Linked DNA regions of Homo sapiens: region 2 is linked to region 1. Evidence: fine-mapped expression QTL. A gene starts in region 1. The other region holds a variant in brackets. All regions are shown on one strand. Distances are between the middles of the regions. Region 1 holds the start of UBE2V1 (ubiquitin conjugating enzyme E2 V1). Region 2 holds the start of PEDS1-UBE2V1 (PEDS1-UBE2V1 readthrough).

Region 1 (5,365 bases):
TGTGGTTGGAGGAATCGAGGAAGGCTTCCCTGAGGGGATGGTGCTGGATCTGAGAACTGAAGAGTGGGAACAGCACAGGCAAAGCCCCTGAAGTGGGAGAGGGCATGTGTTCCAGGGGGCTTGCAAAGGGCCAGTGTCGCCGCAGAGGTACAGAAAGTCTCAGAGGCGCAGGCTGTGCCAAGGCTATGGTGAGGCAAGTGGGGTACCTAGGGTGCAGATTTTTTTTTTTTTTTTGAGACTGAATCTCTCTCTGTTGCCCAGGCTGGAATGCAATGGTGCAATCTCAGCTCACTGCAACCTCTGCCTCCCGGGTTCGCTCGATTTTCCTGCCTCAGCCTCCCGAGTAGCTGGGATTACAGGTGTGTGCTACCACGCCCCGCTAATTTTTGTATTTTTAGTAGAGACGAGGTTTCACCATGTTGACCAGGCTGGTCTGGAACTCCTGACCTCAGGTGATCTGCCCACCTCGGCCTCCCAAAGTGCTGGGATTACAGGTGTGAGCCACCATGCCCTGCCCTAGGGTGCAGATTTTAAGGAGTCACTCACCTGCAGCGCTGTGCAAGTGCGGAGTCAGGACCTGAGTGAAAGCCCCGTTAAATCTGACCACCCCATCCTCGTCCCTGCCCTGGGTGCAGAGCCTGGTGCACAGGGTGTCCAGGCATCCTGCTTTGCCCTGGAGAGCCCTGGTTTCCACTTGTCCTGGTGAGATTATAATAAGTCCCCTTTTAATCTGATGTGTGTCCTCATTAGGTGATAATTCTATGGTCGCTCAACTTGTAAAGTTTGTATTTTATCCAGAGGGAATGGGGAGCCACTGAAGGCTTTAGCTGGAGGGTGTTTTGAGCAGATGTTGGTCTATATGGAGAATGGGCCATAGGGGAGAGAATGGAAGCTGCTGGGGTCTTCCAAGTGGGAGATAAAGGCAGCTTGCCCTGAGTGGAGAAGTGAACGGAGTGGAGAGATGCAGAGTAGGCACTGCTATCAGACAAAGGTGATGAATTGGATGTGCTGGGTGAGGGCTTCCAGCTTCCTTGTCCCTCTATGTTTAGAGTCCTGGTCCTTCTGCCAGTATTTTGCTCTGTGACCTTAAGCCAGTCCCTTCACCTCTCTCAGCCTCAGTGTCTACATCCATATAAGGGCTTCTCAGACAATTTATAATAAAGGAGGAGTACCTTCTTGGGTTTATTTATTTGCAAAAATATTTCCCAAGGGCCTTTGCACAAGCTGTTCCCTCTACCTCCTCATTGTTACGGTCTCTGCTGAAATATGACCACCTTAGGAGGCCCTTCCTGACCATCCTCTGCTGCTCTTGTCTTGGTTTATCTCTACCCTATCAGAATTATAGTTTCCTGTTTATTTACTTGCTGTCTACGACTAGAATGTAAGTCCCTGAAAGCAGGGATTTGCTTCTTCAGAGATGTCTATCCATCCCCAGCGCCTAGCACAGTGTCTGGTACATAGTAGGTGCTTAATGTTTGTTTGTTTGGTTGAATGAATGAATGAACGAATGAATGAATGAATGAATGAATGAATTGGGTAGATGGTTAGCAAATGCTTTCCCTGCCACCTTAATGCCCCTAAATCATTTAGCTGCACCCACTCCAAGCCTTCTCTGGCCGGGGAGCATCAATCCTAGGAGCCAGATCATCTGACCTGGAGGGTGATGATTCAAAAAATTTGAACCTGGAGGTTAAAATTCTGCCTGTCTCTGCCACTTAACAGCTGAGTTTAGATAAATCGCTTGATCTCTCTCGGCTGCATTTTTCACATTAATTCTGACCTTGCGGAGATGTGGTGAGGATCTAGATAGGAACTAGACAGGAAAAAGCCCCAAGCGAATTCGGCGCTTTTGTTTGAAGCTATATTTTCTTTTTCTTTCACAATCGCGCCTTCCCAAGCCTAGTCACCCCTGCCCTTCTCACTAAGCACATCACAACCTCCCTCGCACCCGATGTGTGGGGACTTGCAGGTTGCTGGGCCCTCGAGCACGCAGATATTTCCTTTCTCTAAAAGGGAAGGAAAAGAGCCTTCCAGGCCACGGGTCGTGCAGGTCTCCGGGGCGGGCGTCAGCGGCGGCGTATGTGCGTGCGCGCGCGCCTGCGCATCAGGGCCGGGGGACGGGTAAGGGGGGGGTGAAGAAGGGGCCGGCCTTCAAGCAAGAGCGACGCAAGATGGCAGCCACCACGGGCTCGGGTGAGCGGGGGCGCCGGGCCCGGCCGGCCGAGGGGGCATGGGCTTGGGCCGGGGGCCGGGGACCCTCAAAGCCTCCTGCAGCGGAGCCAGGGTCCCCGCGCCGCCTCTGTCTGCTGGGCTCCGCGGCAGCCACCGGCGCGGCCTGACCGGGGGAGGAGGAGCAGGCGGTGGCCGGAAGCACGGGCGGGGGGCTGAGGGGCCTGTGGGCGGCGCGGCGAGGCCCTGAGGCTCCCCCGGGAGGCGTGAGGGCCCTCTGTGCTGTCTGGGGGAGCCGGAGTGGGCGAGGAGCGAGCTCCGAGGCACTCCTGAGGATACCGGGGCTGGCGACTCTTAAGGGGCGATCTAGAGGTCCCCTAGAGGAGGCGCCCCACAGCGGATGGAAGTCCCATACTGGGTGCCAGGGGTGCGGCTGAGAGGGGCCTTGGGATGTCTGGAGGGGACATCAGAGAAGCCCTTCAGGCTGGATGGAAGAAACGGGATCCTGAGGGGGTGACTTGAGAGGATCCCCTATCGGTTGAGGGAACGGCTCCGGCGTTAGTTTTAGAGATGGGGTTAGCTGAGGAAATAGCTATGTTGACTAGAAAGGAGGAGCCTTGGAGCAGCTGCTTTTGGGGAGAATGAAGGGGGTCTCCGCATGATAAGTGAGAGGAGGGAAAAGGATTCAGATGCCAGAGGGACCTAATAGCGGTGATAGTGAAATGACCCCATCATTACCAGTCTCCTGTTCGAGGATACAGATGGATTGCTTCAAGTTAGGTTTCAGGGGACAAGGTCCGAGTGGGGCAGTTGGTGGAAGCCTCTGATATTGGATGAGGGAGAACAGATGAATTGGGAGCCCCGAGGATGTCTCTTTGGGAGTGGGGATTCAACTGAGGGAAGCCCCTGAAATGAGGGAGTGGAAAAGGTCGGGTTCCGGAGATGTTTCCTGTAAAGGAGAAAAGTCTCCTCTTTTTGAATTGAGTGAGGGAAGCATATCCTAGAAGTGTCTCTTCTGTGGAGACGCTCACTCTCATCGACTCCTTTAATAATTGGGACAGATATGTGGGTTCAGCTCAGAAGTTCCCCACTGGCTGATGGGAGTAGGGAGGTGAATAGATGAAATGGGAACTCTTGGGTGAGGCTGCACCCTCAGGTGCCTGGCAGTGAAGTTGGCCAAGGAGGTTCTCTCAGATGGGGTGAAAATGGGTTACCTCTCTGATGGAGGAAGCAAACAGGGCCACAGTGTTCCCCACTGTGGGGCTGCAGGGACACCAGCCTGAGTACAGCAATCATTGGCATATTTAAGGCCACAGCAGCGGCAGTGTTGGGAAGGAATTGGTGATCCATGGGAAATAGGGTGAGGGGAATTCTTTATAAATGTTGCTACTCTGCGGTCTCAAGGAGCCATACTTGCCTGATGGTTGGGGTGGGAATAAAAGAAATTGAATGTGGGGGATCTGACTGAAGTGACCCACCACAAGCTGCTGCCTTTTGAGTTTAAAACAGTGGGGTCTTCTTGCAGAATAGCGGAGACCATGAATCCTTTTACTCGATTTTGGTTTCAGCTGGAACAGTGCTGAGTCAATTCATTTACCATGACGCTGCCCCAGGCACTCCCAGAAGAGAGATTCTGAGTCAGGCCAGACTGCTGGGTAAAACTTCTCACCAGAATAACACTCCTACCGGGTCGTAATAAACGAAGGGGCCCAGTGTGCTGGTGGTAGCCAGCAATAAGGTGCTGTTGCAGCTCAGCCCTGCTTGCAGTCACTCGGTTGGCTACCTACAATCTGGGTTAACAGCTGCCCGGTTCTAACTTCTCCAGACCCTGACAGTTAAAAAGTGAGTGCTTCATAAATGGCTATGGTGATCAGATAAAATGTCAGCTGCTGTCTAGTGGAATACAAGAGCACTTGGCATGGTTTAGATAACATAGGACAGGCTTTGAGGTGCCCTAAAATGGACTTCCCAAAATTCTTTTGTCTGTTTATTCAACAGATATTTACTGAGGGCCTATTATGTCCCATCGTGGATAGCAAACAAAATGGACATAGTCTGTATCCTTCGGGAGCTTCCATTCAAGTCAGGGAGAGAAGGCTGTTAAGGAGTAAATAAGACAATTTCAGATAGCAGTAAGTGCTATGGAGGAAATTGTGTGATGTGATAGTGTCTGGAGAGGTGGTCAGGAAAGTGACATTTCAGCTGAGTCAAATAATGGAAAGAGCTAACCCTACAGTGTCACAGGCAGGAGAGAGAGTGGGCTGTTAGTGCAAAGGCCCTGTGGTGGGACTCTGCTTGGCATGTTGAAATAACAGGATAAAAGGCCTTCATGTGCAAGCAAGGCTTGTTAAGGAGATGAGTTGGAGAGACATGGCTTTGGATTTGAGATGGTATGAGGGGAAGCCATCAAACAAGTGTCTGGTATGAAGTAGGCATTCAGTAAATATTTGTTGAATGAATGAATAAGAGTCTTAAAAAGAGGAGTATGATAAGATCTGACCTTCGTCCCTAGGCAGTGAAAAGAGTGCAGGGTGCTAAGAGTAAAGCAGACCTTACTTGGGGTAAACTAAAATGAGTGTACAGGCCTCTCTGCTTTCTAACCCTGAGAAGTCTTCCAGGTGTGGTCAGGGCCCAGAGGCCTTCCTTAGTCAGGTTTAGAGTGAGGCTCTTGATTAATCTGTGCCTCCGGTTGCCAGGAAACAGCTGTGAAGCCTTTGAGTTCCTGTAAGGGCTGAACTTAGTTTTTTATGGTCACTGCTTTCAGCATTTGGCTACACCACCTTCCCACTTCCTTTGGTTCTGCAATGTGTGATATCTACATATGTCTTAGAGGGTGGAACTGTGAAAAGCCCACCACAGATCCTCAGAATCCCCATGTTATGACGGGTGACTTCCTCCTGCCTTGGCCAGGATTGCAGCACATCAAATAGTGGCCCTTGGTTGCCAGGCCCTTCCTCTCACTCAGCAGCCCACGAGCTTCCCTGACATTTAATCAGAAAATGAGTGCCAGAGGGGTAAGCCCTGGTGGGGCATGATTTTAAATTTGCATACATCGGAGTGGCCTCATATGCACATTCAGCTTATAAAAACTTAACCATGTGGGCAGCAGAGATTAGTCTTCCCTTCCATTCAAGAGTCTTCCCCAGAGAGAGCTGGAAATGGATGAAAACTCACAGTCCCTTAGTTCTTCTCAGTT
Region 2 (5,365 bases), 39 kb before region 1:
GTTCCAGCCCCGATCCTGGCACGGGGGCCCTGCTGTAAACAAAGCTGTTCTCTGCCCTCAGGAGCTTGCTCTCTGATAGGAGAGACAGGGACTGCAAGCTCAATCCCCACCAGAAGCGCTGTGAAGACAAAACAGGGTGATGTCACAGTGACTGGAGGAGGGGGCACCTTTGAGCAGGGTGGTGGTGGTGGGGCTCTCTGAGGAGGCAATACCATTGGTGTTTAAGAGTCAAATAAATGTTGCTCGTCTAGCTCTTGGTCCAGCACCTGACAGATATTAAGCGCTCAGCAAATCTCATAGTGACCCTAGTTGTCATTTTCATTAGTTTACTGTCCTCGCCACCGGGAGAACATGAGCTGGGGAGGATGCGGGGCAGGCTCGACGTTTCTCCTCTTTGGGCGCACAGCACAGAGCTGGCACACAGCTGATGAACACATGGCACCCGAAACCTCTGCACACAGTAGGGCTTGATAAACCAGCCCACTCTCCATCGGCCTCGCTAGGGAGCATCGTACAGAGCACCCGCCAAATGCTTCCTGGCCTCGGCCCCAGCCCGGCGCCCTGCCCTCGCGTTCCTTGCACACAGTGGGCGCTTAACGCTGCCGGCTCAAGAAATGCCCATTTCTGGGCCCTGCCTCGGCCCATTGCATGGGCCCGTGAACCGAAGCCTAGCTGGGCGGCGACGCGCCGCGAGCTCCCAGTGGGCTGGAGCCGGGAGCCCTGCCGGGGCTGAGCTGGGAAGGCGGGCACGCGCCTCCGCCCCAAGCTTCCGCGCCCAGCTGCGTCCAGCTGCGTCCCAGCCTCCGGCTCGCGGCGGTTGGCTGCGGCTCAGCGACGTCCGATTGGCCTGCGCGGCTCCGGCGCGAGCCCCGATTGGCTGTGACGCGCGGCCGGGCGAGGACCCCGCCCGCGCCGCCGCCGCGCCCGGCGCTGGGCGGTCATTGGGCGGCGTGATCTCGCCGCGGTTCCGCGGCCCTGCCGCCGCCGCCGCCAGCAGAGCGCACCGGGCCGATCGGGCGAGTGGCCATGGCGGGCGCCGAGAACTGGCCGGGCCAGCAGCTGGAGCTGGACGAGGACGAGGCGTCTTGTTGCCGCTGGGGCGCGCAGCACGCCGGGGCCCGCGAGCTGGCTGCGCTCTACTCGCCAGGTAAGACCTCTGGGCCCCCCTCCAGGCCTGCGGTCACCAGCCCCGGCTGCGGACAGCGACCCCAGACTGGAGTCCCAACCTCGGGCCCAGATGCGGAACTCCAGCCCGGGTGTCTAACTTGCAAATAGCAAGTTCGGGGACCCCACCCCAGTGTCCCTTCCGAACCCAAGCCAGAACCTTGGCCCCGGGGTTTCCTGGCTGCAGAGACACTCCCCAGATCAAGAAATTACCATGAGCTCCCTGGGCGACAAACGGAGCTCCCATCGGACCCGCAGATACGGAATCCTAGCCCCGGGGCATTCTCGGTTGTGAAGAGTGCTCCTAGACTTAGAACCCCACCCCCTCATCCCCCCAGGACCCGGTCCAAGCCCAAAGCTGCCCTTCAGCTGTAAGCACTGCCCTCAGGCCCCTAAAAGTCACACCTCATCCTGGGTTCCCCAGATCTGGAATCTACATCCTAGTACCTCCTCTGTGCCCTAGCCCAGGCCCTGGGCTGCAAACAATGACCTCACCTCCCTAACCTGGGAATGTCAGCCCCTCTGCCCAGGGAACCCTAACTCAGGGGCTTCCAGCTGCACGGTACCCCCCACACCCTTCCCCCAAAACCCCATCCTAGTGATAGCTTCAGTGGCTACAGACCGATATCCTCTCCCCAACCCTCCAGTGGTGAGCATCAGTCCTTGCCCCATATTCCTGGATCCCAGGCAGTGAGGGGACTGAATGTACCCCACTGTAAGCTCCCCTGTACATAAGCCCCAACTCTAGCTCTTGCCCCTCCCTCACATCCATGTATTGGCCCCTTCCTTAGGACTTGGGACTGGAACCCCCATATTCCCCAGACCAGATCATAAGTTGGAGTTCACCTCTCCCTCTCTGTCCCTTTCCCTCAGGCCACGGTTTCTCCCTAGCTTCTTCCTGCTTTGCTCACTGTATATGCTCCAGCAAGCACCCCC[C/G]CTACACCCACTTTTGTGACTCCTACGTGAGCCCTAGGAATTTTACTGTTTGGCCTCAGGAGGGCCCTATATCCCCAGGAGTTAAGGAAGTGCCTTTGAGAACTCCTGGTTCAGGTGACTGGGAGGCACCTCTACCTGGGTGTCACCATGGAATGAAGCTTTGTTTGTCAAATATCCTGACATCCTTCCTTTTTCTGTGGGGCAGCCACCAAGCACCACATGCAGCCCTTGCCTGGAGTGGGCCTGGGGTCACTAGCACCTTAGCTTTCTGCCCTCACTGGCCTGGGTTCCATGCCGTCTCTTCCTTAAAAGGCGGCATGGCCACGGACCATTTGCATTTCCTCACTGGGTCCTAGACCACTCCATTCTCTGTATGTGATTTTTCACACCTGACTTGGGCACCTGGTCCATGCCGCTATGGTTTCTTCAGGCCTATACCCAAGACACCCAGCCTATGGACTTAAAACCTCCTGCTCTCCTGGGGGTAGGCCAGGGTTAACATCCTGACTCTGTTATTCAGCTGTATGACCTGGTCCAAGCCACTTTCCGTCTCTGTTTCCCCTTGGTTTCCTTGCAAGTTAAAGTTTATCTGCCCCTTCGTGTTAGGAAGTGGAAATGAGATCGTCCACTGGCATTCAGTAGGCACTCCCTGTTGTTGTGTGGGTTTTTTTGTTGTTTTTTGTTTTGTTTTGTTTTATTTGTTTTGAGATGGAGTCTCACTCTGTTGCCCAGGCTGGAGTGCAGTGGCGTGATCTCGGCTCACTGCAAGCTCCTCCTCCCGGGTTCACGCCATTCTCCTGCCTCAGCCTCCTGAGTAGCTGGGACTACAGGCGCCCGCCACCATGCCCGGCTAATTTTCTGTATTTTCAGTAGAGATGGGGTTTCACTGTGTTAGCCAGGGTGGTCTCGATCTCTTGACCTTGTGATCCGCCCACCTCGGCCTCCCACAGTGCTGGGATTACAGGCGTGAGCCACTGTGCCTGGCGCCTCCCTGTTGTTAACAGTAGTCTGACCTTTGCTGTGGGGGATCCGCCTCACCTCTCTGGTCCTCAAACTCCCCACCTGGGAATTGGGGATAAGGATTCAAGGGCCTCCCTCTTTAGTGTCCAGCTCTGCCTGCTCCTGTGAACCCTACCTACTTTCAGACAGCCCAAATCATTCCCAGGCATTCTGAGCCTCCCCAGGGATTGCTGTTTCCCCACTCCACCACGATCAATTGCATATTTGTCCATTTCTGGTTTCCCCAAGTGCCCTTCACTCTCTGAAGAACAGCCATGCCTGAATCAGAGTCTGCAGACAGCCTGGTGCCCCAAATCTGCAATCAAGGCCCTTTATCTCCTCCAGACCTGGAGGTAGGGGAGGAGACTTGCCAAACTGGTTTCTCCAACTTCCTTTCCACTGGCCTCTCTGCTTCTATCTGCTCACTGTGTGATCTTGGGGAAGTATTTGACCTCTCTGGGCCTGAAAAAGTGAGAGACCAGGCTCAGTGCATATTGAACACCTATGTTCTAGTCCATGTTCTAGGCTCTGGGGGCAGAATGGTGAACAAGACAGAAAAAAATGGAGCTGGCCGGGCGCGGTGGCTCACACCCGTAATCCTAGCACTTTGGGAGGCCGAGGTGGGTGGATCACTTGAGGTCAGGAGTTCGAGACCAGCCTGGCCAACATGGCGAAACCCCGACTCTACTAAAAATACAGAAATTAGCTGGGCATGGTGGCAGGCCCCTGTAATCCCACCTACTCAGGAGGCTGAGGCAGGATAATCTCTTGAACCCAGGAGGCGGAGGTTGTTGCAGTGAGCCAATACCACACCACTGCATTCCAGCCTGGATGACAGAGCGAGACTCTGTCTCAAAAAAAAAGAAAAAGAAAAAAACGGAGCTGGCATTTTAGTAAATAGCCGGGCCATAAACTTGACAAATAACTGTCTCACGTGCCCAGTGGTGGCAAGCGCTGTGGAGCAAATACATAGCAGGAGAGGGGGATCTGAAATGTTGGGGACAGGAATGACATTTTAGGGAGGGGGCAGTGAAGGCTTCCCTGAGCAGGTGACATTCGAAGTGAGGCCTGAAGGGAGGAAGGACTGGAGGGAGGGAGCCTTGAGGATATTTGAAGAAGGGTTGGTCCAGACCAGGGAAACAACAAATGCAGAGACCCTGAGGTGGGAGCTTGCCAGGCATGTTTAGGGAATATGGAGGACACATGTAGGCTGGAGGGAAGAGTAGAAGAAGTTCCTGGGTTCTAGGAGCAGAATGTTTGAGATTACTGGGGCTGGAGGTGGTTTGGCACTGTGACAGTTGACAGCCATAATCATGGCAATCAACATAGCCGAGTGATTGAGCCTCACTGTGCTGGCATTTTCCTCACCTGCTCTCCGTGCATCCCCACTACAACCGTGTGAGCTGTACCTTGATATTAACTGCATTCACAGAGGAGGAGGCTGCAACCCCTCCCAACCCCCACCCCAGGCATGCTCTTCCTAAAGCTCACCCTGATCGGGGTTAGGCCCGCATCTGCCCTCACCTGATGGGAAGGCCAGCAGGACAGGGACTGAACCTATTTGGTTTGATTAAAGTGCTTGGCCCCTCATGAGCACCCAGTCCACTTTTGTTGGAACATTTCCTGAGGCTTAGAAAATGGGAGAGGCTGCCTGAGGTCATACGGCGGGGCACCGGGCAGCAGTAGGGCTAGGCCTGGAACCCGGGACTGGGCCGGGTGGGGGTGCGCTAGGTTCTGTGTTCTTACTCTTCACTATGGAAGTCAGCCAGCCAGGGGTGAGTGTGTGGGAGGTGGGGGCGAGTATTCCGGATCATCAGAACAGCATGTGTGCAGGGCAGGTGGCAGAGAATGGGCCTCTGTGTGTAGGGAGCTGTGAGTAGTTGGACCAGAGCAGCATGGGGCTGAGGGAATGGTGACAGGTGCAGCAGGGAGGCGGCCACAGCCTGATTTCGCAGGCCCCAAGTGTCTGGCCCAGAGGTTGAGCCCTGGTCCTGCAGGACCCAGGAGCCGTTCTGTCCTGTTCTGGGCTGAGTTTCCCAGCAGCAGCCCACCTCATGCCAGATGTCAGGGTTTGTGAAGGGCCTGGCCAGCTTGGCAGGCCAGAGGGTGAGGCGGGTGTCCAGCTTCCCAGGAGGTCCCAGCTGAAATCTGGCCATGTGTGTGCTACTTCTCAGGTGCCCCAGGCTTCATGGGTGCAGCCTCACGGTCCTTGATCCACCTGTACCCCACCCAGGCCAACTGTGGGTGCCCCCTGCCCTGGGGATTA

The links. PIP is the estimated chance that this variant, and not a neighbour inherited with it, causes the effect. A credible set is the group of variants that fine-mapping cannot tell apart.
Region 2: its variant is the best candidate, but not a certain one, in a credible set for the expression of UBE2V1 in whole blood (TOPMed, PIP 0.50).

Annotation. Positions count from the first base shown.
Region 1 is chr20:50,109,935-50,115,299 of GRCh38, reverse strand. It overlaps UBE2V1 (ubiquitin conjugating enzyme E2 V1), which reads left to right and starts at 2,150. Exons shown (of 4, transcript NM_001032288.3): 1 at 2,150-2,193. The coding sequence starts at 2,172. All of the region lies in intron 5 of PEDS1-UBE2V1 (PEDS1-UBE2V1 readthrough), which reads left to right. RefSeq lists enhancers at 1,231-1,798, 1,803-1,912 and a silencer at 2,083-2,622.
Region 2 is chr20:50,149,299-50,154,663 of GRCh38, reverse strand. PEDS1-UBE2V1 (PEDS1-UBE2V1 readthrough) reads left to right here and starts at 941. Exons shown (of 8, transcript NM_199203.3): 1 at 941-1,147. The coding sequence starts at 1,027. PEDS1 (plasmanylethanolamine desaturase 1) reads left to right here and starts at 941. Exons shown (of 6, transcript NM_199129.4): 1 at 941-1,147. The coding sequence starts at 1,027. RefSeq lists a silencer at 508-1,187. The variant C/G (reference allele first, on the strand shown) is at 2,101.